Linked DNA regions of Homo sapiens: all the other regions are linked to region 3. The links come from fine-mapping of genetic effects on gene expression. A gene starts in region 3. Each other region holds a variant in brackets. All regions are shown on one strand. Distances are from middle to middle.

Region 1 (8,179 bases), 52 kb after region 3:
GGTGAAACCCCGTCTCTACTAAAAATACAAAGATTAGCTGGGCGTGGTGGCACGTGCCTGTAATCCCAGCTACTTAGGAGGCTGAGGTAGGAGAATCACTTGAACCCAGGAGGCGGAGGTTGTAGTGAGCCAAGATCGCGCCACTGCACTCTAACCTGGCGACAGAGCGGGACTCCATCTCAAAGAAAGAAAAAAAAAGACATGTCCCTGCCTTCCAGAAGCTTACGGTCAAGTGAAGAGGATGAGCGTTAAATAATCACCCCCCTCGCCAAAAAACCACAAACACAATTACATCTGTGACCAGTGGTATCGAGAAAGTCCAGGGCACAGTAGAAGGACAGCAAGATCGCCGTTCTGGAGCTCTAACACCATCTCTTCAAGCAAACCTGGGAGGAGGTGGCGGAAGAGTTAATGAGACCAGCAGGCAAAGGGAGGGATGGGGACAGCAGAGGGAACAGTGAGTACACAAGGCCTAAGGAAGGAGGGATGTGCCCCTGAGGGTGGCCAGATGGCAGCCTGGGGCCCTCACAGCGACCCAGCCACAGGGTTTGTTCCAGAGCTCAAATACCTCAGATCTCCAGGACAAGGATGACAAGGCCAGCTGGACAGTGTCCCAGGCCCTTCTCCTCAGGCTTTAGGCTTCCCCAGGAGACCTCCGGCACCATTCAGCCTTGTTGCATTGTGGCACTTGGAAACAAAGACAGCGGTCTTCTTTGCTTGACTGTCAATAGAATATTGGGAGAGCACAGGTCTCCCTGGGACCCTGCCTCGCCGCTGATGGCCTGCAGCCCTAGACAAATTCCTCAACCTCTCTGAGCCTCAGTTTCCCCACGTGCAAAATGAGGTTCTTGGAAGGCTGAACAAAATCCCACATGTAGATGTCCAGGCTGTATTGCTGGAGACGCCTTCCATGAATTACTACGCAGATACCACCACCCATACAGAGCTGTGCTGTGCTCCTCCACATCACACTGCAAAGGAAGAAGGCAGAATAACAAGATCTCAAACAGCAATGTTCCGCCTAATGAAGTACAGACTGGAGATTGCCAGCTGCACCCAAATCCACTCTCTCCCCCATTCTTGAATACAGAACTCCACTTTCACTCAGGGCAAGTCCATCAACCAAGAGGGTCCCCGAGCTTTCTTAGAGTGACAAAGCTTTGGCTAATGAGCTGTAAGCAGAAGTGTCCAGACCATAAGAAGGCATTCAGGGCAAGCCGACTCAGCCCGGAGCCAGGCCCTTCATCTTTCCTGCCTTCCTCCCATCTACCACCTGGAAGATAGATGCCATGGCTCCAGTAGCTGTGCTTCACCATGAGGGCCTTGGGATGGAGGCCAGTGCCTAGGACAGCCATGGGACACCACACCAGCAACTAACTGACCACCTCCCACATCTTCCACATGAGTAATAAAACTTGGTTTACTGGTTAATTATTGGTAAATTATTTTCAGGTTAAGTATTAACAAGTGTCATTACAAATATACAGCACAGACAGGTGCAGTGGCTCACACCTGTAATTCCAGCACTTTGGATGCCAAGGTGGGAGGACTGCTTAAAGCTAGGAGTTCAAGACCAGCCTGGGCAACATAACAAGATCCCATCTCTACAAAAAAATAAAATTAGCCAGGTATGGTGATAGACACCTGTGGTCCCAGCTACTTGGGAGGCTGAGGCGGGAGGATTGTTCTAGCCCAGGGATTCTAGGCTACAAAGAGCTATGTCACGCCAATGCACTCTAGCCTGGGCAACAGAGTGAGACTCTATCCCCCCTCCACCACAAAAATATATCTCTACAGTTCCTTAGGTCTGAAGGAACACAAGTTCTCTTCAAGTGATCCATGATCAAAAGGATCATGGCTTTCTTTAGGTCACATGACACAGCCTCAGCCAGTACAGAGGCCAAGGCATGGGGAATACTCCCTGGCGGGAAGGCTGGAGCAGATGCTTCCGTAGTTAAAACAGGCCCCGAGAGAAGTGCAGCTGGTTGCCTTGGAGCGAGGACACATTCTTCTGCAACTCCAGTGCTCATTTCAGCATGAGCACTGGCTCAAGGAGGAGCTGAGGAGGACGATGGCGTGCAGTGAACGTTAATAGAGCATGCACTGTTTGGATGCAGGTGCCCAGCACAGGGACATGAAGGAAGTGCTCCAAGTGAGGAGGTGCTCAAAAGGGAGCCCCTGCTGTGAGACTGCTCCTGGGCCCCAAACCCTCTCCACTCCCCTCTCCACCATGCCCTATCCAAACCTGGGGCTAATCCAGCCACCCAAGTCCATGTGGGACCAGGCCAGGATTCCCTGTGGCCTTTCGCAGCTGACCAGAGGGACCCTATTCCCAACGCTGGGTGATGAGCAGGAAAGAGGAGGCCCTCCACAAAGGTCCACTCAGTTGCAGAGCAGCCTCTAGTGAGGCTGAGCCCTCCCAAGACTCAGGGAGGTTGCCAATGTGTCCCCTTCTCTGGGACCGTTGTCCTCGGCTGCCAAGTTCTAGCACAGGCAGGCCTGGAAAATCCTGAACATGGCCCATTTCCCATTGTCCTGATGGAGGCAGGACGAGACAGTCCCTCCCTCAGATAACATCGCGGGTGGCTCTGAACCATTTATTTATTTTTACACTTGAAGATGGGTGTATCTGATGCCTTGGGAATTCTAAACACTTCAAAACAAGCTCAACTTAAGTCACAGAAAGGACCAGAAAACAGATCTGGTTTTCCCATCTGCCAGCTCTCCTCCCACCCAACCCTACATGCTCCTCCTCGACCATGATGAGTCTCAGCGGAAATAAGACACCAGCCTAGCCAGGCACGGTGGCTCATGCCTGTAATTACGGCACTTTGGGAGGCAGAGGTGGGCGGATCACGAGGGCAGAAGTTCAAGACCAGGCTGGCCAACATGGTGAAACTCTGTTTGTACAAAAAATACAAAAATTAGCTGGGCATGATGGCATCCGCCTGTAATCCCAGCTACTCGGGAGGCTGAGGCAGGAGAATTACTTGAACCCAGGAGGCGGAGGTTGCAGTGAGCCGAGATCACACCGTCGCACTCCAGCCCGGGCAATAGTCTGAGAATCTGTCTCAAAATATAAAAAATAGCTGGTCACGGTGGCTCACACCTGTAATCCCAGCACTTTGGGAGGCCAAGGCAGGCGGATCACAGATCAGGAGATTGAGGCCATCCTGGCTAACATGGTGAAAACCTGTCTCTACTAAAAATACAAAAAAATTAGCCAGGCATGATGGCGGGCGCCTGCAGTCCCATCTACTCAGGAGGCTGAGGCAGGAGAATGGTGCAAACCCGGGAGGCGGAGCTTGCAGTGAGCTGAGATCGCGCCACTACACTCCAGCCTGGGCAACAGAGTGAGACTCCATCTCAAAAAAAAAAAGATAAATAAAAATAAAATAAAAAATAAAATAAAAATAAAATTAAAAATAAAATAAAAAAGACATCAGCCCAACCCCATGGCCCCAAACACCACTGCGCCCTCCAACAGAAGCATGAGCCCTGTGTCGCAGGCAGAGCTGCAGGGGCAGAATCTTGCACCGAGTGGGGCACAGGCATCAGGCCCCACGCCCACCACCCTGCCCTGCCACCTGACTCTCCAGTCTCAGATTTTTTTTCATCTGTGATATGGCGGTAGGAGCAGCCCCTTATCAAGAATTGTGATGAGTCACGGGAGAGGCCATGGGTGAAGAGCACACCACTGAAGGCCTGCCACAGGAGCCTGAGAGAGGAAGTACAC[G/A]AGAAAAAAGAAGACACTGTTACTTTTTTTTTTTTTTTTAGACGGAGTCTCGCACTGTCGCCCAGGCTGGAGTGCAGTGGCGGGATCTTGGCTCACTGCAAGCTCCGCCTCCTGGGTTCACACCATTCTCCTGCCTCAGCCTCCCGAGTAGCTGGGACTACAGGCGCCCGCCAACACGCCTGGGTAATTTTTTGTATTTTTAGTAGAGACGGGGTTTCACCGTGTTAGCCAGGGTGGTCTTGATCTCATGATCTCGTGATCCACCTGCCTCGGCCTCCCAAAGTGCTGCGATTACAGGCAAGTGCCACCGCACCCGGTGACACTGTTGCTCTTAAGCAGAAGCAAAATCAAAAGGCAGACAGGACTCAAAGAATGGTTCTAAACCTAAAAGTACTAAGGCCTCTAGGAACTATGATGATGACAATTACTGTGCAATTTATATCATGCTGAATTTTAGTAAAACCTCCTGGCAAACCACTCTCACTTGGTGACACTCCGTCCACAGCACGGGGCCACAGCATAGTGGATCAGTACAACTTTCCTGGACAGCCTTGCTACCTGTACACTCTTATGGACTCAATTCCACTTCAATGTATTCGTTCTAGAGGTAAATGGACATGTGAACACAGATTCACAGGCAAAGATGTTTATATGCACCACTGTCTTGATGTTCAAGAAAATGGAACTGGTTACATGCATGTGATTAGCTATATAATGTAACTGTATTCAGCCCCTAAAAAATGATATAGTTTTGTTTTTGTTTTTTGAGATGGAGTCTCGCTCTTGTTGCCCAGGCTGGAATGCAATGGTGCAGTCTAGGCTCACTGCGACCTCCGCCTCCCGGGTTCAAGTAATTCTTCTGCCTCAGCCTCCTGAATAACAAGGATTACACGCACCCGCCACTAAGCCTGGCTAATTTTTGTATTTTAGTAGAGATGGGGTTTCACCATGTTGGCCAGGCTGGTGTCGAACTCTTGACCTCAGGTGATTTTGCCCACCTTGGCCTCTCAAAGTGCTGGAATTACAAGCATGAGCCACCATGCCTGGCCAATGATATAGATTTTTATTGACATAGAAAAATGGTTTTAATATAGCAGTGAGTGAAGAATAAAAAAGCAGTAGCACAGTGTGATTCTTCTTTAGATGTATTTACATACGTAACACATTTTTTGTCTTTGTTTTTTCCTTTTTGTGGAGAACAGCGTCCTGATATATTGCCCAGGCAGGTCTCGAACTCCTGAGCTCAAGCTATCCTCCAGCCTCTGCCTCGCTAAGAGCTGGGATTACAGGCGTGAGCCACTGCACTCTTCCATAACACATATTAACAGTTTTTCTGGGCAGTAGGAGTTTAGGGGATTTGTTTATATGTAAGTACACATACAGAAACGTTCTACTGATGTGGAGTTTCTAGTTTTTTAATGGTAGGCAGCACCTTTACATGACTCCTTCCTCAAAATGCTCATTATAAGTCAGACACAGTGGCTCACGCCTATAATCCCAGTTACTTGGGGGGCTGAAGAGGGAGGAACACTCAACCCAGGAGGTGGAGGCTGCAGTAAGCCATGATTGCACCGCTGCACTCTAGCATGGACAACAGTGGGGAAGAACCCTGTCTCAAAAAAAAAAAAAAAAAAAAAAAGGCTGGCCGCGGTGGCTCACACCTATAATCCCAGCACTTTGGGAGGCTGAGGCACGCAGATCACCTGAGGTCAGGAGTTCGAGACCAGCCTGGCCAACATGGTGAAACCCCATCTCTACTAAAAATACAAAAATTAGCCAGGCGTGGTGGCGCATGCCTGTAATTCCAGCTACTTGGGAGGCTGAGGCAAAAGAATTACTTGAACCCAGGAGGCAGAGGTTGCAGTAAGCTGAGGTCGCATCATTGTACTCCAGGCCGGGCAACAAGAGCGAAACTCCATCTCAAAAAAATATATATATACTACTCCTCATACTCCTCAATCCAGAAACACACCTCAGACTATAATCTAATTTCACCTACAGGAGAAAATGCTCTGCAGAGCAAGCCAGAGGCCTGGACTGGTTAGTGGCCTCCTCTCCAAAGCCAGCCCCTTATGGCCATAGGTCTCCCATGAGTTTGGTCAAATGAGTCAGTTCTGCCAGATCACCTCCCGGTACTCCAGGCAAATGGAAAGTTTAGATCTGTAAAGTTGGAATGTAATGACCTCACAGTCCTGCTAGCCTAGGAGACCCCGCCAGGAGACCCAGCAGGAGGTCACCTGACCAAAGAGGGCTGGTAAGAAAGTCCCCGTTGGATGCATAATAAAAACGAGTGATAGAGCCCATGCTGAGGACACAGCCCCGGCCTCCCAACTCGCCCAGTGATCTCGCCAGGACTCTGAACTACCTCCCAGGCAGAACGCTGCTCAAGAGCTTGTTCCTGCATGCTCTCCTGCTAGCAGAGAAAATGAAGGAAGCACAGACAGGAGGGGAAATGCAGAGCAAAAGGAAAAAATCAGACACAGCTCAACCACAAGTGAATAAACAAGTCATCTGCACCTGTCCCACAGGCAGGCCTTGGTAACTACAAGGCTGACTAATTTTAGAAACAGCATGAACCTAAAGAACCATCATTTAAGTGCTCAAAATGGAGCCCTTAAAAAAAATCCTTCTGTCTGCCTGTACTGAGCAGACACAAAATGGACAGTCTTGGGTTGACTCTATTCAACCAGCTGTCTGTTGGATGAGATCAAGACACACCACTGCAACCTACAAAAAAGCACCAGGCCGTTAAGTGCAGTCAAGACACGTGGCCACTCACGGCCACCCAGGTGGAAGAGTCTTAATTCAGACACAAATGTCTCCTGGCCGTCCTTAGCCAGGGAGCTGGGCTCTGCCCGCGGCCAGGTCTTGCCTGAGTCCCCCTATTCCGTGGGTCGGGGTGGGATGTGGAAAAGCAAACCTCTAGGCTTTCTTCCTCCAAATGTGTCAGTCACCATACATACCTGTACACAGAAGCTCCCCCTCCAGCAATTTTCCCTCAGAACAGTGAGGACAGTGGCTCATCCCTGCGACATTTAGATCTCTCATGTTACAGGGCATTCTTTCAATTATTTTGAAGACATTTCTGATGGGTGAAGAAAGCGCTCTAGGAACTGAGAGTGGGAATCTAATTTGTATTTTACACTACATTAGATGCAACAGTATATAGCATATGGAAATTAGTTAACTGAGTTTCTATCACTCTTAGTTGGCATCTGACCCTAAGAATTCACTTACATTGGTTGGGTGTGAAACAAACTGAATTAGTAGTTTACACTGCATTATATGAAACAGTATATAGACTGGGTGCAGTGGCTCACGCCTGTAATCCCAGCACTTTGGGAGGCTGAGGCAGTCGGATCACTTGAGGTCGGGAGTTCGAAACCAGCCCGACCAACATGGAGAAACCCCATCTCTACTAGAAATACAAAATTAGCCGGGCGTGGTGGCACATGCCTGTAATCCCAGCTACTCGGGAGGCTGAGGCAGGAGAATCACTTGAACCCACGAGGTGGAGCTTGCAGTGAGCCGAGATTGCGCCAGTACACTCCAGCCTGGGCGACAGAGTGAGACTCCATCTCAAAAAAAAAAAACAAAAACAAAAAAAACAGAAATAGTATACAGTAGGCCAGGCACTGTGGCTCAGGACTGTAATCTCAGCACTTTGGGAAGTCAAGGCAGGAGGATCACTTGAGACCAGGAGTTCAAAGCTGCAGTGAACTGAGTGCGCCACTGAACTCCACCTGGGCAACAAAGCAAGACTCTGCCTCAAAAAAAAAGAAAGAAATAGTATATAGAAGTTTATTAGGTTGGTACAAAAGTAATTGCAGTTTTTGCCTAAGTTCCTGTAACTCTAAGTCAACATCTGGCCCTGAGTTCACTCATGCTGGCTGGGACAGAAGACTTATTCTGGAAGCTTGGGAAAACAGGAGCTCACGTCATGATTGGGACTGCCATCTGCTTGGCCATGTATATATTTCTCTATGACTCAGACATCAGAGACCAGGCTGGAGTGCAGTGGCGTGATCTCGGCTCATTGCAACCTCCACCTCCCAGGTTCACGCAATTCTCATGCCTCAGCCTCCCAAGTAGCTGGGACTACAGGCGCCTGCCACCACACCCAGCTAGTTTTTTGTATTTTTAGTACAGATGGGGTTTCACCGTGTTAGCCAGGATGGTCTCGATCTCCCGACCTCGTGATCCGCCTACCTCGGCCTCCCAAAGTGCTGGGATTACAGGTGTGAGGCACTGTGCCCGGCCTTTTTTTTTTGTATTTTTAGAGACGGGGTTTCGCCATGTTTGCCATGGTCTCAAACTCCTGACCTCAAGTGATCCTTCTGCCTCAGCCTCCCAAAGTGCTAAGATTATAGGTGTGAGTGTCTGCTCCTGGCCAGAGAACACCTTTTGGAGGTTGCAAGGCCATCAGAGATGACTGGGTCCAAG
Region 2 (8,179 bases), 340 kb after region 3:
TTCTTTTTTCTTTTTTTTTTTTTTGAGATGGAGTCTTGCTCTGTCGCCCAGACTGGAGTGCAGTGGTGTGATCTCGGCTCACTGCCAGCTCTGCTCTGCCTCCCGGGTTCACGCCATTCTCCTGCTTCAGCCTCCCGAGTAGCTGGGACTACAGGCGCCCGCCACCACGCCTGGCTAATTTTTTGTATTTTTAGTAGAGACAGGGTTTCACCCTGTTAGCCAGGATGGTCTTGATCTCCTGACCTCGTGATCCACCCGCCTCGGCCTCCCAAAGTGCTGGGATTACAGGCGTGAGCCACTGCGCCTGGCCCCTTTTTTTTTTTTTTTTTTTTTTGAGACGGAGTCTTGGTCTGTCGCCCAGGCTGGAGTGCAATGGCACGATCTCGGCTCACTGCAACCTCCGCCTCCTGGGTTCAAGTGATTCTCCTGTCCCAGCCTCCGGAGTAGCTGGCATTAATAGTGCCCGCCACTATGCCCGGCTAATTTTTGGTATTTTTAGTAGAGACTGGGCTTCACTATATTGGCCAGGCTGATCTCGAACTCCTGACCTCAGGTGATCTGCCCGCCTCAGCCTCCCAAAGTGTTGAGATTATAGGTGTCAGCCACCGTGCCCAGCTGAAACTGGAATTCTAAAAAGAAAGTAAGAAAGGAGGAACAAACAAAAGACAAAGACAACGAACAGAAATCAAATGATAAAATGGCAGCCCCAAATTGAACCACATATCAATACAACTACTAAAGGTCAATGCACCAGTTAACCTTCAGAACCTAACCTCTGAACTCCTAACAGTATAGAGTCTAAGCTCATACCATCCAAACGACCTGAAAGCAGCGAGCTGCATTGAGAAATTAACCTAAAAACTCTGCTTCCAAGCCAATGAATCCTGTAGTCAGGGTGGAGGCAACTTGGAAGTCACTTCAAAGAGAAGCTTTCCCAGCCCAAGCCACATGAAACCCTTGGGAAATAACTATAGTCAGAAATGAGCTTTCATCAAAAAAGACTTATAAAATACACAACGAATTCTACTATCCAGAGAGAATCCACTGGTAGAATGAACAGGGGGGACTTGAAATAGTAATGTAATCTGAAAGAGTCATGAAATAAGTACTCTGAAATGTTGAAACAGACAAGAGACAGAAGACAGAATTTAGGAACAAGGCTGCATGCGGTGGCTCATGCCTGTAATCCCAGCACTTTGGGAGGCCAAGGCAGGCGGATTACTTGAGGCCAGGAGTTCGAGTCCAGCCTGGTCAAAATGGTAAAACCCTGTCTCTACTACAAATACAAAAATTAGCCAAGTGTGGCGGTGCATGCCTGCGGTTCCAGCTACTTGGGAGGCTGAGGCAGGAGAATCACTTTAACCCAAGAGGTGGGGGCTGCAGTGAACTGAGATCATGTCACTGCACTCCAGCCTGGGCAACAGAGTGAGACTCTGTCTCAAAAAAAAAAAAAAAAAAAAATACAATTCAGGAACAGAGAATTATACTATGAAAAGCCAGGTGTCAAAAGAACAGTACTGGCTGGGTGCCATGGCTCACGCCTGTAATCCCAGCACTTAGGTAGGCTGAGGTGGGTGGATCACCTGAGGTCAGGAGTTTGAGACCAACCTGGCCAACATGGTGAAACCGTATCTCTACTAAAAATACAAAAAGTTAGCCAGGAGTACTGGCAGGCACCTGTAATCCCAGCTACTGTGGAGGCTGAGGCAGGAGAATCACTTGAACCCAGGAGGCAGAGGTTGCAGTGAGCCGAGATTACACCATTGCACTCCAGCTTGGGCAACAAGGGTGAAACTCGGTCTCTAAAATAAAATAAAATAAAATAAAATAACATAAAATAAAAGTGTATCAGCTGATAGTACTTTAAAAATACAGCTGCTGTTTCACAAAGTGTCATTTTTATTATAATAATATGGTAAAGACAAATGTTTTTCAGTTGTTTTTTTTTTAGATTCAAATTCTATGAAGATGAGCTAAGAAAGCGGAACTTCTACCCTAAAAAGCTTTTCGAAAGTGTATGTGAAGTTGGATACAGTTGTGCACGCCTATAGTCCCAGCTACTCGGGAGGCTGAGGTGGGAGGATTGCTTGAGCCTAGGAAGTCAAGGCTGCAGTGAGCTATAATTGTGCCACTGCACTTTACCTGGGCAAGAGAGTGAGACTGTGTCTCAAATATAAAAAAAGTGCACGTGTTAAGTGCTTAAAACATCATTTGAAAAATGCTAATAGACATGCTAATTAAAAGGCAGATACTGTCAAAATGGATAAAAATCCAAACCCCAATTACATACTGTCTATCAAAGCCATAATTTAGACATAAATAAGAGAGGAAATGGATGGAAAAATATACATACCATGAAAACAATAAGCCTGAGAAGGCTGTAGCAGCTTTCGTTTTTTTTTTTTTTTTTTTGCGATGGAGTCTCACTCTGTTGCCCAGGCTGGAGTGCAGTGGTGCGATCTAGGCTCACTGCAACCTCCCGCCTCCCAGGTTCAAGCAATTCTCTGCCTCAGCCTCCTGAGTAGCTGAGATTAAAGGTGCCTGCCACCATGCCCAGCTAATTTTTTGTATTTTTAGTAGAGATAGGGGTTTCAACATCTTGGTCAGGAGAATGAGACCATCCTGGCTAACACAGTGGAACCCCGTCTTTACTAAAAATACAAAAAATTAGCCAGGCATGGTGGCAGGCGCCTGCAGTCCCAGCTACTCAGGAGGGTGAGGCAGGAGAATGGAGTGAACCCGGGAGACGAAGCTTGCAGTGAGCCGAGATCGTGCCACTGTACTCCAGCTTGGGTGACAGAGCGAAACTCCGTCTCAAAAAAAAAAAAAAAAAAAATCATACAGGCAGCTGGTTGTGGTGGTTCATGCCTGTCATCCCAGCACTTTGGGAGGCTGAGGTGGACGGATCACCTGAGGTCAGCAGTTCAAGCCCAGCCTGGCCAACATGGTGAAACCTCATCTCTACTAAAAATACAAAAATCAGTTGTGTATGGTGGTGTGTGCCTGTAATCCCAGCTACTCAAGAGGCTGAGGCATGAGAATCGCTTGAACTTGGGAGGCAGAGGTTGCGGTGAGCCGAGATCGCGACACTGCACTCCAGCCTGGGCGAAAGAGCAAAACTCTGTCTCCAAAAAAAACAAAAAAACAAAAAACAAAAAAACAAAAAAAACCCAATACAGGGCAGGGCATGTTCTTTGATCATAGAGCAGTAAGTTAAAAATCAATAATCATTAGATATCTAGGAAAACCCAAACACTAGATAAACTTTTAAGTAATTCATGGATCAAAGAAGAAATCAGAAAACAAATTAACACGGATTAGTGGACATTTAAAGATTTATATACTCATGTTATAAAGAAAGCAGGATTAAAATAAATGATTTAAGATTCCACTTTAAAGGGTTTGAAAAAGAACAAAGAGGCCAGACACAGTGGCTCACACCTGTAATCCCAGCACTTTGAGAGGCTGAGGCAGGTGGCTCTCCTGAGGTCAGGAGTTGGAGAACAGCCTAGCCAACATGGCAAAACCCCATCTCTACTAAAAATACAAAAATTAGCAGGGCGGGTTGGGGCACGCCTGTAATCCCAGGCTACTTGGGAGGCTACTTGGGAGGCAGAGGCACAAAAATCTATTGAACCCAGGAGGCAGAGGCTGCAGTGAGCTGAGATCACACCACTGCACTCCAGCCTGGGCGACAGAGTGAGACTCTGTCTCAAAAAAAAGAAAAAGAACAAAGAAAAGCTAAACTAAGTAGA[G/A]GGAAGGAAACGATAAAAGAAAAAGAAACTTGGCCAGGTGTAGTGGCTCACACCTGTAATCCCAGCACTTTGGGAGGCCGAGGCGGGCAGATCACGAGGTCAGGAGATCGAGACCATCCTGGCTAACATGGTGAAACCCTGTCTCTACTAAAAAAAAAAAAAAAAAAAAAAAAAAAAAAAAAATTAGCCGGGCGTGGTGGCAAGAGCCTGAGGCGACAGAGCAAGACTCTGTCTCAAAATAAAAGAAAAAGAAAAAGAAAAAGAAACTGAATGGCTGGGCGTGGTAGCTCATGCCTGTAATCCCAGCACTCTGGGAGGCAGAGGCGGGTGGATCACCTGAGGTCAGGAGTTCGAGACCAGCCTGAACAACAAGGAGAAACCCCATCTCTGCTAAAAATACAAAAATTAGCTAGGCATGGTGGTGGGCACCTATAATCCCAACTACTCAGGAGGCTGAGGCAGGAGAATTGCTTGAAACCAGGAGGCGGAGGTTGCATTGAGCTGAGATCGCACCAGTGCACTCTAGCCTGGGTGACAGAGTGAGACTCCGTTAAAAAAAAAAAAAAAAGAAAGAAAAAGAAACTGAAGGGCCTTGGGGCTTGGGCCACATCTACCCTACCTCATTTGCTGCAGCTGCCATGGGAGTCGGATGGTTGACCGCATCACCCAGCGCAATGGCTAAGCGGAGATCCTTCTGAATGTATTTCAGGTAGAAATCAGGCTTAAAGTTTCCTTGCAGGATATCTGAGGAGAAAAAGCCAGTATCAGACAAAAGCCAAGGACCTGAAACTAAAAACTACTTACGGTCCACCAGGTGTCAGTACCTAAAACATACTCAGGGCTCAGTTCCACATAGCCTAGGCCTCTTGGCTCCTCACTCACCCTTAGACACCTGAGGGCTGCAGCTCCCAGCCTATATCCCCAAATCCCGCCCACTGTGTTTCTGAACCTCCTCTGGCCAGGGTCAGGGACTGACTGGGGAGGGGCATCTTTCACGCTCACTAAATCCCTGACCTAGTACCCTGCTCTAATCAAACACCAAATGCAAGAAGAGGGGCCAAAAACAACTCACTTTGGCACTTCTGGTCCAGGAAGATGCTGGCCAACTGTCCCTGATTGAGGATGTCCAAGAGTGTCTGCTGGGACTGGCCTGTCACCTGGGCCAGGGTCAGCCCCTCGGCAATAGTGGCCATGAAGCTCCCTTGGACCATGTTCACGATCAGCATCATCTTGGCTGCATTGCCCACTTCACCTGCCCAGGGTAAAGACTCACGGTCACAGCCCAAGAATGCCACAGACAGGGCTTCTCTGTCCACCCTCACCTCTGCTCAGACCCACCTCTCTCCAGGGGAGGCCCCCTTCACCTGCCCCCGACAGACTGGCTCTTCCTCCTTCCACGCACTGACTATGCAGGTGAAAGGAAACCTTCCCCAGGGTCCCCGGCAGAAAGGCCGTGTGGGACTGACGCTGTCATCAGTGTGAAACAGAGGAGATGTGGCCCCAGGCTCCAGGCCTGACAGGTGCAGGCGTGTTACCTAGGAAGAAGGAGGTCTTCCCCATCGCCTGGAAGCAGCTGCTGCAGTCCTCATATAAGCCCCTGTCTCCAGCCGCTAAGATCACCAACATCCCGTCATTAGACAGCTGCTGATTCCCTGAGACGGGGGCTTCCAGAAAGCGCCCCCCCCTGGACACAATCACCTGGAAAGAAAAGTCACAGCTTCTGGAGGCCTCCCCTCTCCCAGCGCTCTCTGGGCAGGACTCAAGGAGTGTTGCTGAGTGGCCACGGCTGCTCATCACCTTCCAGAGCTGGAGGGGACGGCCACCCATACCAAGGTCCTTTAGCTGACACCTAAACTCAGGAGCTAACCATGTGCAGGTCACACAGGCCGAATCACAGCAGTGATGAGACGCTGGGGTCTCCACACAGGAACCCAACTGACTTGGAATTTTTTTTTTTTTTTTGAGGTGGAGTCTCGCTGTCGCCCAGGCTGGAGTGCAGTGGAGCGATCTCGGATCACTGCAAGCTCCGCCTCGCGGGTTCATGCCATTCTCCTGCCTCAGCCTCCCGAGTAACTGGGACTACAGGCGTCCACCACCACGCCTGGCTAATTTTTTGTATTTTTAGTAGAGACAGGTTTCACCATATTAGCCAGGATTGTCTTGATCTCCTGACCTTGTGATCCGCCCGCCTCGGCCTCCCAAAGTGCTTGGATTACAGGAGTGAGCCACCACGCCTGGCCGGAATTTTTTTGTTTTGTTTTTTTGAGACAGAGTCTTGCTCTGTTGCCCAGGCTGGAGTGCAGTGGCGCAATCTCAGCTCACTGCAAACTCTGCCTCCCGGGTTCATGCCATTCTCCTGCATCAGCCTCCTCAGTAGCTGGGACTACAGGCAACCGCCACCATGCCTGGCTAATTTTTTTTTTTTTTTTTGAGACGGAGTCTTGCTCTGTTGCCCAGGCTGGAGTGCAGTGGCACGATCACAGCTCACTGCAAGCTCCGCCTCCTGGGTTCATGCCGCTCTCCTGCCTCAGCCTCCCAAGTAGCTGGGACTACAGGTGCCCGCCACCGCGTCCGGCTAATTTTTTTGTATTTTTAGTAGAGATGGGGTTTCACCGTGTTAGCCAGGATGGTCTCGATCTCCTGACCTCGTGATCCGCCCACCTCGGCCTCCCAAAGTGCTGGGATTACAGGCGTGAGCCACCGCGCCCGGACTGGAATTTCTTAGAGACCAACAACTAGAACCAGATGTGACCATGTCAATGGCTCGGCTGAACACACACCTCCCCTGTGGATGCTGCCCTCCCCTCAGAACATATGTGGGTCCCAAAGTCCCCACTCCCTTATTTGGGCCAGATGCTCGGGGAGGAGGGATGCTTTGCCAGTGTCAAATGCAGACAGCTGCTCAAACCCCAATGCCAGGCGGGCGGCCTGGGTTGCTTCTCATCATAAGGCTGGCAGCTCCAGGACTTGATGCCCATCCCAGCCATGCAGCGACTGCCCATGGCTGTTCAGACTAGCTGCGGTTTGAAGGTGGAGCACGGGATAGGCTAGTCCCAAGGCTACTCGCCTCTCCTCTTCCCTCTCTGGCTTTGGCTCTAGAGTAACTTAACTGCCCACTCTTGTAAGCCTGGGTCTTGGGCTCTGATAGAAAAGATGCTGGAGAGCCAGCCCAAGGAAGGCTGCTACCTGGGCCAGCTCAGTGACGGTGTCAGCGTCCACTGTTGACATGTCCACGTAGCACTTCCCAGGGCGGATCCCTTGCAGCACACCACTGGGGCCCAGCACCAGCTGTGGGGACACAAGGGAGAAGCAATAGCCCAGGCTCCCGGGCAGATGCTCAGGAGCCCTACAGACCTCAGATCAGAATCCTGCTGCTGTTTTGGCTCATTTCCTGATTTCTATCAGCTGAAAAGGGAAGAACAATGAAATAAGCAAGGGATAGAAAAGTACTTCCCGCATGCTCCCATTTATCTTTAAAAAGAATCTATGTGAGTGTGTGCATTTCTTTTTATTTAAAAAAAAAAAAAAACAAACCCCATTTAAAAGAATAAACCTCAGCATTTACTTTGGGGACTTCTTTGGATTTACTTGGATTAGGCTAGTCACCAGTTTAATAAGATGACTACCACACTTGAACTTCTAAAATATACAAATACAGTGACAGCTAAACATAGAAGCTTGGCACCTGGACCAAAGGCACATTCAGTTCCAAAGCTTCTAGTTCAACAAGAACACATGAAGCCTGTTCAAGACACATTTCAGCACAGACTTCAAGGGCCCTAGTAGTGTTCATTCTTTGATCTGAATTAAAGGAAGTCTGTATTCAATTAATGCAAACACCCTTCACAATGGGAGATGGCCCCTGATGGGAAATTCAGCCCCCCACATGTGGACACTCACTTGGTGTGCAGGGGAGGAGGGGAAGAGGCCAGCCAGCAATCCTGGCTGTGACCCGGAGTTGCTGAGGGGAGGGAGGGGGTCCTTACGTCCTTGGCCGCCTTGGGATCCGACACGCAGGCGAAAGTGATGTCGCAGGTTGAGACGACTTCAGCGGGGGTTCTTCCCAGACGGGCCCCCTCCTGGATGAACAAATCACACTGCAAAAGTCACAGATCCTAACGTGAGCTGCAGGCAGTGCACAACAAACATGCCAGCCAGGCCAGAGAATTGCTGACCAGGCCTCCTGGCGGCCTACCAAGGCAGGAGGCTGAGGCCGGGAGCCTGGGTCATGGAGATAGGAGCCCAACTTTTGGGGAAGTGCACGGGGCCTTTTACTGGCCATCTTCAGTTTTTGCATGACGAGTGCCTAGGATGATGAACTGCTTCACAAGTGTCTGCTGAAGGTATGCTGTTTCAAGAATGGGGTATGAACAGTAGCACCTCTCCCCAGCCCCCGCTGTGCTGTCCTGGCTGTGGCCCTGAGC
Region 3 (8,179 bases):
AGACTCTGTCTCAAAACAAAAGAAAAAACCATATTCAGATCTTGATGGGATTTGAATTCTTCCTGAAGTAGAATATAAAGCCATATTCAGATACACAACCATATTCAGATCTGCTCAAAAACGAGACAAAGAAAAATAGTTAACAGAAAGGAATACAAAAACTTATTCAGATCTCGATGGAGCTTGAGTCACACAGGCATGCGCATCGGTCAGATGTACCCTTAAGATTTTGCGCGTTGCAGCTGGGCCCAGGGGCTCATGCCTGTAATCCAGACACTTTGGGAGGCTGAGGCACGCAGATCTCTTGAGCTCAGGAGTTTGAGACCAGCCTGGGCAACATGGTGAAACCATATCTCTACAAAAAAAAACCAAAAATTAGCTGGGCGTGGTGGCATGTGCCTGTAGTCCCAGCTACCAGGGAGGCTGAGGCTGGAGGAAAGCCTGAACCCAGGAGGTTGAGGCTGCAGTGAGCCGTGATCACACCACTGCACGCCAGCCTGGGTAACAGAGTAAGGCCCTGTCTCCAAAAAAAAAAAAAAAAAAAAATTCTTTATTATATGTATATTTTACCTCATAATTAAAAATAATCTATAAACAAATACTGAATTCTAGCTAATGTTATGCATGCTTTAGTATGGAAGGGCGGTGTACACATATCTGCAATTTACACAGAAATGCATCAAAAATAAGGACTGAGGCCGGGCACAGTAGCTCATAGCTGTAATCTAAGCACTTTGGGAGGGTAAGGGGGATGGGTTTTGCTTGAGGCCAGGAGTTTGAGACCAGCCTAGGCAGCAGGGTGAGACCCAGTCTCTACAAAAAATTAAAAAATCAGCTGGGCCTGTTAGCGCTCATCTGAAGTCCCAGCTACTCAGGCGAATGAGTCAGGAGGATTGCTTGAGGCTTGGAAGTCAAAGCTGTAGTGAGTGATGATTGAGCCACTGCACTCCAGCCTGGGCAACAGAGCAAGACCCTGACTCAGAAAAAAGTGTACACCAATGTTCCATGGCAGCATTATTCATAATAGCCAAAAAGTGGAAATAAATCAAGTATCCATCCACTGACGAATGGACAAACAGAATATAGTCTATCCATACGGTGGAATATTACTCAGCCATAAAAATAAGTAAAGCTGTCAGGAGTTCGAGACCAGCCTGACCAACATGGTGAAACCCCGTCTCTACTAAAAAATACAAAATTAGCTGGGTGTGGTGGTGCACACCTGTAATCCCAGCTACTTGGGAGGCTGAGGCAGGAGAATTGCTTGAACCCGGGAGGCAGAGGTTGCAGCGAGCAGAGATCACACCATTGCACTCCAGCCTGGGCAACAAGAGAGAAACTCTGTCTTAAAAATAAAAAAGTAAAGTTGGCCGGGCGCGGTGGCTCAAGCCTCTAATCCCAGCACTTTAGGAAGCTGAAGTGGGCAGATCACCTGAGGTCAGGAGTTTGAGACCAGCCTGGCCACATGGCAAAACCCCATCTCTATTAAAAATACAAAAATTAGCCAGGCATGGTGGCTCACGCCTGTAGTCCCTGCTACTCAGGAGGGTGAGACAGGAGAATCGCTTGAACCCGAGTGGCAGAAGTTGCAGTGAGCAGAGATCACGCCACTGCACTGCTGCCTGGGCAACAGAGCGGGACTCTGTCTCAAAAAAAAAAAAAAAAAGAGTAAAGCCCGGACACACACTACAACATGAACAAACCTTGAAAACATGCTAACTGAAGAAGCCAGAGAGAAAAGGCTACATATTATGATTTTATTCATATGAAATGTCCCGAATAGACAAATCCATAGAAACCAAAAGTAGATTGGAGCTTTCTAGGGGTTGGCTGGGAGGAGTAAGAATGGGGAGTAACTGTTCACGGGTTCATGGAGTTCTTTTTTTTTTTTTTTTTTTTGAGATCAGGTCTCACTCTGTTGCCCAGGCTGGAGTGCAGTGGCACAATCAGGTCACTGCAGCCTTGACCTGCTGGACTCAGGTGATCCTCCCACCTCAACCTCCTAGGTAGCTATAGGTGCATGACACCACGCCCCACTAATTTTTGTATTTTTTTGTAGAGACGAGATTTTGCCCTGTTGTTCAGGCTGGTCTCAAACACCTCAGCTCAAGCGATCTGCCCATTTGGTCCAACTAAAGTGCTGGGATTACAGGGTTGAGCCACTGCACCTGGGCCAGAGTTTCTTTTTGGAGTGATGGAAATTTTCTAAAATTGATTGTGGTGATGGTTGTACAATTCTATGAATACACTAGAAACCAGTGAGTTGCACACTTTAAACAGGTAGATTGTATAGTACGTGAATTATATCTCAATAAAGCTGTTAGAGATATTAAATATGTATAAATAAGAAAAAATAGGAATGAAATAATATGCTATCATTTGAAAAAATGATAACATGTTATCTACTCTGGCAGGATATTCAAGAAACTTGGTAACAGCAATAGATGAGGTGGAAGAGGAGGCTAGGAAGAAGATTTAATTTTGGTATCATGTTCAAGTACTCCTATTCAAATAAGTTAAGTAACTCATTTTTTTTTAATTTGGAAAGCAGGTCTGGCGTGGTGGTTCATGCCTGTAATACCTGCACTTTGGGAGGCCGAGGCGGGTCATCACCTGAGGTCAGGAGTTTGAGACCAGCCTGACCAATATGATGAAACCCCGTCTCTACTAAAAATACAAAAATTAGCCGGGCGTGGTGGCATGCCCTTGTAATCCCAGCTACTCGGGAGGCTGAGACAGGAGAATCGCTTCAACCCGGGAGGCAAAGGTTGCAATGAGCCGAGATCGTGCCATCGCACTGCAGCCTGGGTGACAGAGCAAAACTCCGTCCAAAAAAAAAAAAATTGGAAAGCAATTTGGGCCTCGTTCCTGCGACCACAGCCCCAACCTGGGTCGGGGGTCCCAGTGACCTTACCCCTCCCTGCAGACCCCAGGACGGGCGGTCTTCAGGGCTAGGCGCCCTGGCTCTGCAAGGGCCCCAGTCTGGGGTTTGGCTCACCTGTGCCTCCGAAAACCACCACCAGTTTCTTGTCCACCATGAGGACGAGAATGGGACGAATCCGGTCCAGAGATCTGGGGGTAATGGGAGGCGTGGAGTTGGGGGTGGGGCCGGGGTTCCCGCCAGGAGCGACAAAGGACACCCCCATTGTCTATGCATCGAGTATGTGTCGAAGGGGGCGGCTGGGCCCGGAGCGGCAAGACGCCTGTCCCGAGATATCGGGGTCCCGCGACCCACCTCGTGTCCCTTGGGCCCGATCCCCTCCTCCTTCCCGCCTCCCCCGGTTCCAGTCACCCGCCCCCCGGCCCGGGTCCCACCGGCTGGAGTGACCTCCTCGCCGCGGCCTGGGCGGGACAAGTTCCAGGAGCCCGGGACCCCGATTCTGCGGCCGAGTCCACTGCAGAGGCGGGGATGGAGCTGCGCGCTAGGCGCCAACTCCCTCCCCGCAGCTCCGGCCCCACCTGGCAGAGCGCCGCTCACGGAAGCCCAGCGTCGGAGGACCCCTGGCTGCAGCCGCCAATCCCGACGTGTCGGCCGAAACCCCTCCTCCGGCGCAGTTGGCTCCTCCTGGATCCCGCGGGACTCGGCGTCGTTTCCGGGTTTGCCCGCCCCAGGCACGTGCACAGTGAGTTTGTGTAAATCCAGTTAGACCAAAATGAGCGAGGTGGAGAGCCTCTTAACCGGATGCTACGGGTGATGACTGGGAGGAGGAGAAAAATTACCTCTTTATCTTGCATGAACATCTTAATTTTCAGGTATTGGGCGTCAGGCAAAGATAATTAAAGCTATGTCCATGAGTCTTATCCCTTGAGGCCTTGTCCGCTTGATATTTTCTTTGCCTAACTCACTTTTAAAATTTTATTATTTTTATTTTTTTGAGACAGTGTCTTGGTCCGTCGCCCAGGCTGGTGTGCAGTGGCGCGATCTCGGCTTACTGCAACCTCCGCCCCCCGGGTTCAAGAGATTCTCCTGCCTCAGCCTCCCGAGTAGCTGGGATTACAAGCATGTGCCACCAAGCCCGGCTAATTTTTGTATTTTTTAGTAGAGACGGGGTTTCACCAGGTTGACCAGGCAGGTCTCGAACTCCTGACTTAAAGTGATCCACCCACCTCAGCCTCCCAAAGTGCTGGGAGTACAGGTGGGAGCCACCGTGCCCAGCCCTAACTCACTTCTGAAGTTGCTGCTACTTGCACTGATTTCAGTTTTTTTTTGTTTTTGTTTTTTGTTTTCAAGGTGGAGTCTTGCTCTGTGGCCCAGGCTGGAGTGCAGTGGTGGTGCGATCTTGGCTCACTGCAACTTCCGCCTCTTGGGTTCAAGTGATTCTCCTGCCTCAGTTTCCTGAGTAGCTGGGATTACAGGCAGGAGCCACCATGCCCGGCTAAAATTTTTTTGTATTTTTGGTAGAGACGGGGTTTCAACATGCTGGCCAGGCTGGTCTCGAACTGCTGACCTCAAGTGATCTTCCCGCCTCAGGCTCCCAAAGTGCTGGGATTACAGACATGAGCCACCACACCCGGCCCACGATTTCAGTAATTTCTTTGTGTTCAGTAAAACTAAAAAATGACTCTGGGCTGGGTGCGGTGGCCTGTAATTGCAGTGATTTGGGAGGCCGAGGCGGGTGGATCACCTGAGCTCAGGAGTTCGAGACCAGCCTGGCCAACATGGTGAAACCCCCGTCTCTACTAAAAATACAAAAATTAGCCGGGCGTGGTGGCAGGCGCTTGTAATCCCAGCTATTCGGGAGGTTAAGGCAGGAGAATCGCTTGAACCCGGGAGAAGGGGGTTGCAGTGAGCCGAGATCACGTCATTGCACTCCAGCCTGGGCGACGAGCAAAACTCGGTCTCAAAAAAAGAAAAATCATTCTGTCATTCTGGCCGCTGTTTGAAGAATGCGAATAATGCAACAGGGAGATCAGATACAAGACTGGTAACCGAGGTGTCAGAGTTGAGACTCAGTTTCGCAGATTGCATTGGCAAGTGACCAAGTGGGTGGTGCCACGGTTGACAACCCTATTTCTTACATCACTGAGTGGATGTACAAGGATTAAACCACACTGGGGAAGAAAAGTGCTCAACCCTGAGGCACCCTCACACACCTCGGCTCTTGTGAACACTAGTGTTCCTGCCGAAGCACGCCTACTTACCCCGCTGAGCAGAGCCTGAGCCTGCAACCTCCAGAGACCTGGGGAAAGCCACATACTCCGCTTCCCGCCCCCGGCAAGGGCGTGTCAGCTACAAGGGGCGTGTCATCTCTAGGCCCCGCCCCGCGCTGCGTGCCCACGTTGCGCCGGCCTCGCGCCAGTCCGCTGGGCTGCAGGGACTGCGGCGCCTGAGGGAGTCGCTGACGGGCACGCTGACTGGAGGCTGGCGGACAGGCGACAGCGACCTGCGGCAGGTGAGCTGTCCGCGCCCTCCCGGGGCCTTCCTTCCGCCCGGCTTCTCGGACCGCGCTGCGTCCTTCGCGGGCCCTGCCTCGGTCCAGGCCTTCGGACCTGGGCTTGGCCGGGCCACAGCCCTTTGGGTCCCCTGCGCCGGTCTGAGGGGAGACCCGGCCGGGGGCGGCCGGAAGCTGGGTGAGGCCGGGCAGAAGGACGAAGAAGGGCGTGGAGGGGCTGTCAGGGGAGGGCGAAACCGCGGACGCCGCTCTCCAGAAGTCGTCTCCCCGGGGGCGCGGGGAGGCCTGAATGGCTCTCTTTGGCGTCCCCGTTGGGCCCACCCTCTCCCAGCGTCACGGCTATGCTGGGCGAGGTGACCCCCGGGGTCGTAGCTGGGGGCGTCGGCGGTGCAGACAGGGGATGCCGGCAGAGATTGGAGCCCGGCTTGGCTGTTTCCCGGGCTGTTGGCATTGACCGGGGCTCTGCCCTTCCTCTAATGCCCTTATCTCTATAGGAAGTGCCCCTTGAGTGGGTGTCGTGACTTCACGAGTGAACCCTGGTACGCCCTGGAGCAGAGTCGGACTGGGAGGGATCAAGTGTGGGGGCAGCCGGTTAGTCCGGACGCGGGTTTACCTATTACTTTCTGAGCGCAGTGCTCTGGGTGGATTAATTGCCCTGCAAAAGCTGCCGGGACCTCCTTGCAGTCTTTGCACGAGGCCTGCCTGTGTCATGCCATTTAAATCGCGTCTGGGCCGGGTCGGTGGCTCACGCCTGTAATTCCAGCACTTTGGGAGGCCAGGGCGGGCGGATTGCTTGAGGTCAGGAGTCCGAGACCAGCCTGGCCAACATAGTGAAACCCCGTCTCTACTAAAAATACAAAAATCAGCCGGGCATGGTAACGTGAGCCTGTAGCTCCAGCTACTTAGGAGGCTGAGGCAGGAGAATCGCTTGAACCCGGGAGGCAGAGGTTGCAGTGAGCCGAGATCACGCCATTGCACTCCAGCCTGGGCGACAGAGCAAGACTCCATCTAAAAAAAAAAAAAAAAAAAAAAAAAATCGCTTCTGATGAGCCGGTTGTCGTGGCCTGTGGCTGTCCATCCTTACGTACTGTGTTTTGTTGATGGCGCTACAAACCAGACAAGGTGGAGTGTGATTGAAGAAAGAAACGCTGGCCGGTGCAGTGGCTCACTCCTGTAATCCCAGCACTTTGGGAGGCCGAGGCAGGCGGATCACCTGAGGTCAGGAGTTCGAGATCAGCCTGGCCAACATGGTGAAACCCCGTCTCTACTAAAAATACAAAAAAGTTAAACGGGCGGGGTGGCGCGTGTCTGTAATCCCAGCTACTGGGGAGTTTGAGGTTGGAGGATCACTTGAGCCCACGAAGTGGAGATTGCAGTGAGCTGAGATCGCATCACTGCACTCCAGCCTGGGTGACAGAGTGAGACCCTGTCTCAAAAAAGAAAAAAATAAATTATCACAAGACAAAATTTGTGCTTATCAGGAGTTCACAGTTAAGACATATATAAGCTTACTTGGTGAAATTAGAAAAAGTTATCAGATAAAACATTCAGGTTTAAACACTGGTGAGGGTGTGGGAATTTGTGGAGCCTTGGAAACACACTCATTGAATGACCTCATCTACCTGGGGATGTGAAGAGGGAAATCCTGTGATTCCTCCATTGTCTGACTTGATTTCCTTTTTTCCTTGGCTGTGGCAACATGTTGAAGTGCTGTGAGTCACCAAAAGGGGGAACGTGAGCAACTCTAGAAATGCCAGTGCCAGTGAGTTACAGACAATAAAGCATTGACCGCCTTTAGCTCACCCCTCATCAAGTCTGTTGAAAACTTGTAAAATTGGACAGCTAGAGCTACCTTGATTTTTTGGTTTCCTTTTAACAGCTGACTCTCTTCACAGGACAGTTGGGCTCTACATCAGGATTGCACCCAAAACTGGAATATCACTCCTCCAGGAGGAAGATATATTTGAAAATTAGAATTGTGGGCCCGGTGCAGTGGCTCATGCTTGTGATCCCAGCACTTTGGGAGGCCGAGATGGGCGGATCACCTGAGGTCGGGAGATAGAGACCAGCCTGACCAACATGGAAAAACCCCATCTCTACTAAGAAAAAAATAATAATAATACAAAAATTAGCTGGGCATGGTGGTGTGTGCCTGTAATCCGAGCTACTTGGGAGGCCGAGGCAGGAGAATCACTTGAACCTGGGAGGCAGAGGTTGCGATGAGCCAAGATTGTGCCACTGCATTCCAGCCTGGGCAACAGGAGCAAAACTGCATCTCAAAAAAAAAAAAAAGAAAGAAAGAAAATTAGAATTGTGTATTTCACTGTAAAATTTGAAATTCAGCTTTAACTCCTTGGAAAGGAAAGAGATGAAAAACTTGACCTAGACTGGGTGCGGTGGCTCACGCCTGTAATCCCAGCACTTTGGGAGACCAAGGCGGGTGGATCACCTGAGGTCAGGAGTTCGAGACCAGCCTGGCTAACATTGTGAAACCCCGTCTCTACTAAAAATACAAAAATTAGCCTTGCAAAAAGTAGCCTGTAATCCCAGCTACTCGGGAGGCTGAGCAAGGAGAATTGCTTGAACCTGGGAGGCAGAGGTTTCAGTGAGCCAAGATCATGCCATTGCACTCCAGCCTGGGCGACAAGAGCAAAACTTCATCTCAAAGAAAAAAAAATTCTATCAGAGTGAACAATAAGTAGGATGCTAGCACATACCTGTAATCTCAGCTACTTGGGAGGCTGAGGCAGGAAGTTAATACTTGATGAGCCTAAGTTTTTGGTGTC

The links. PIP is the estimated chance that this variant, and not a neighbour inherited with it, causes the effect.
Region 1: its variant is fine-mapped to the expression of NMRAL1 in whole blood (TOPMed, PIP above 0.99).
Region 2: its variant is fine-mapped to the expression of NMRAL1 in Th17 cells (Schmiedel 2018, PIP 0.95).

What each region holds. Positions count from the first base shown.
Region 1 is chr16:4,523,332-4,531,510 of GRCh38, forward strand. All of the region lies in intron 1 of CDIP1 (cell death inducing p53 target 1), which reads right to left. Among named protein-coding and RNA genes, the nearest start is that of CDIP1, 11 kb to the right of the region's middle. RefSeq lists enhancers at 5,748-6,400, 6,401-7,052. The variant G/A (reference allele first, on the strand shown) is at 3,737.
Region 2 is chr16:4,806,796-4,814,974 of GRCh38, forward strand. GLYR1 (glyoxylate reductase 1 homolog) reads right to left here. Exons shown (of 16, transcript NM_032569.4): 11 at 7,742-7,852; 12 at 6,942-7,043; 13 at 5,291-5,453; 14 at 4,828-5,007; 15 at 4,375-4,499. Among named protein-coding and RNA genes, the nearest start is that of ROGDI, 8.3 kb to the left of the region's middle. The variant G/A (reference allele first, on the strand shown) is at 3,756.
Region 3 is chr16:4,471,095-4,479,273 of GRCh38, forward strand. It overlaps NMRAL1 (NmrA like redox sensor 1), which reads right to left and starts at 3,531. Exons shown (of 6, transcript NM_020677.6): 1 at 3,460-3,531; 2 at 2,999-3,072. The coding sequence starts at 3,038. HMOX2 (heme oxygenase 2) reads left to right here and starts at 5,304. Exons shown (of 6, transcript NM_002134.4): 1 at 5,304-5,393. It overlaps LOC124903636 (a long non-coding RNA gene), which reads right to left. Exons shown (of 3, transcript XR_007064964.1): 3 at 8,170-8,179. RefSeq lists an enhancer at 5,100-5,601.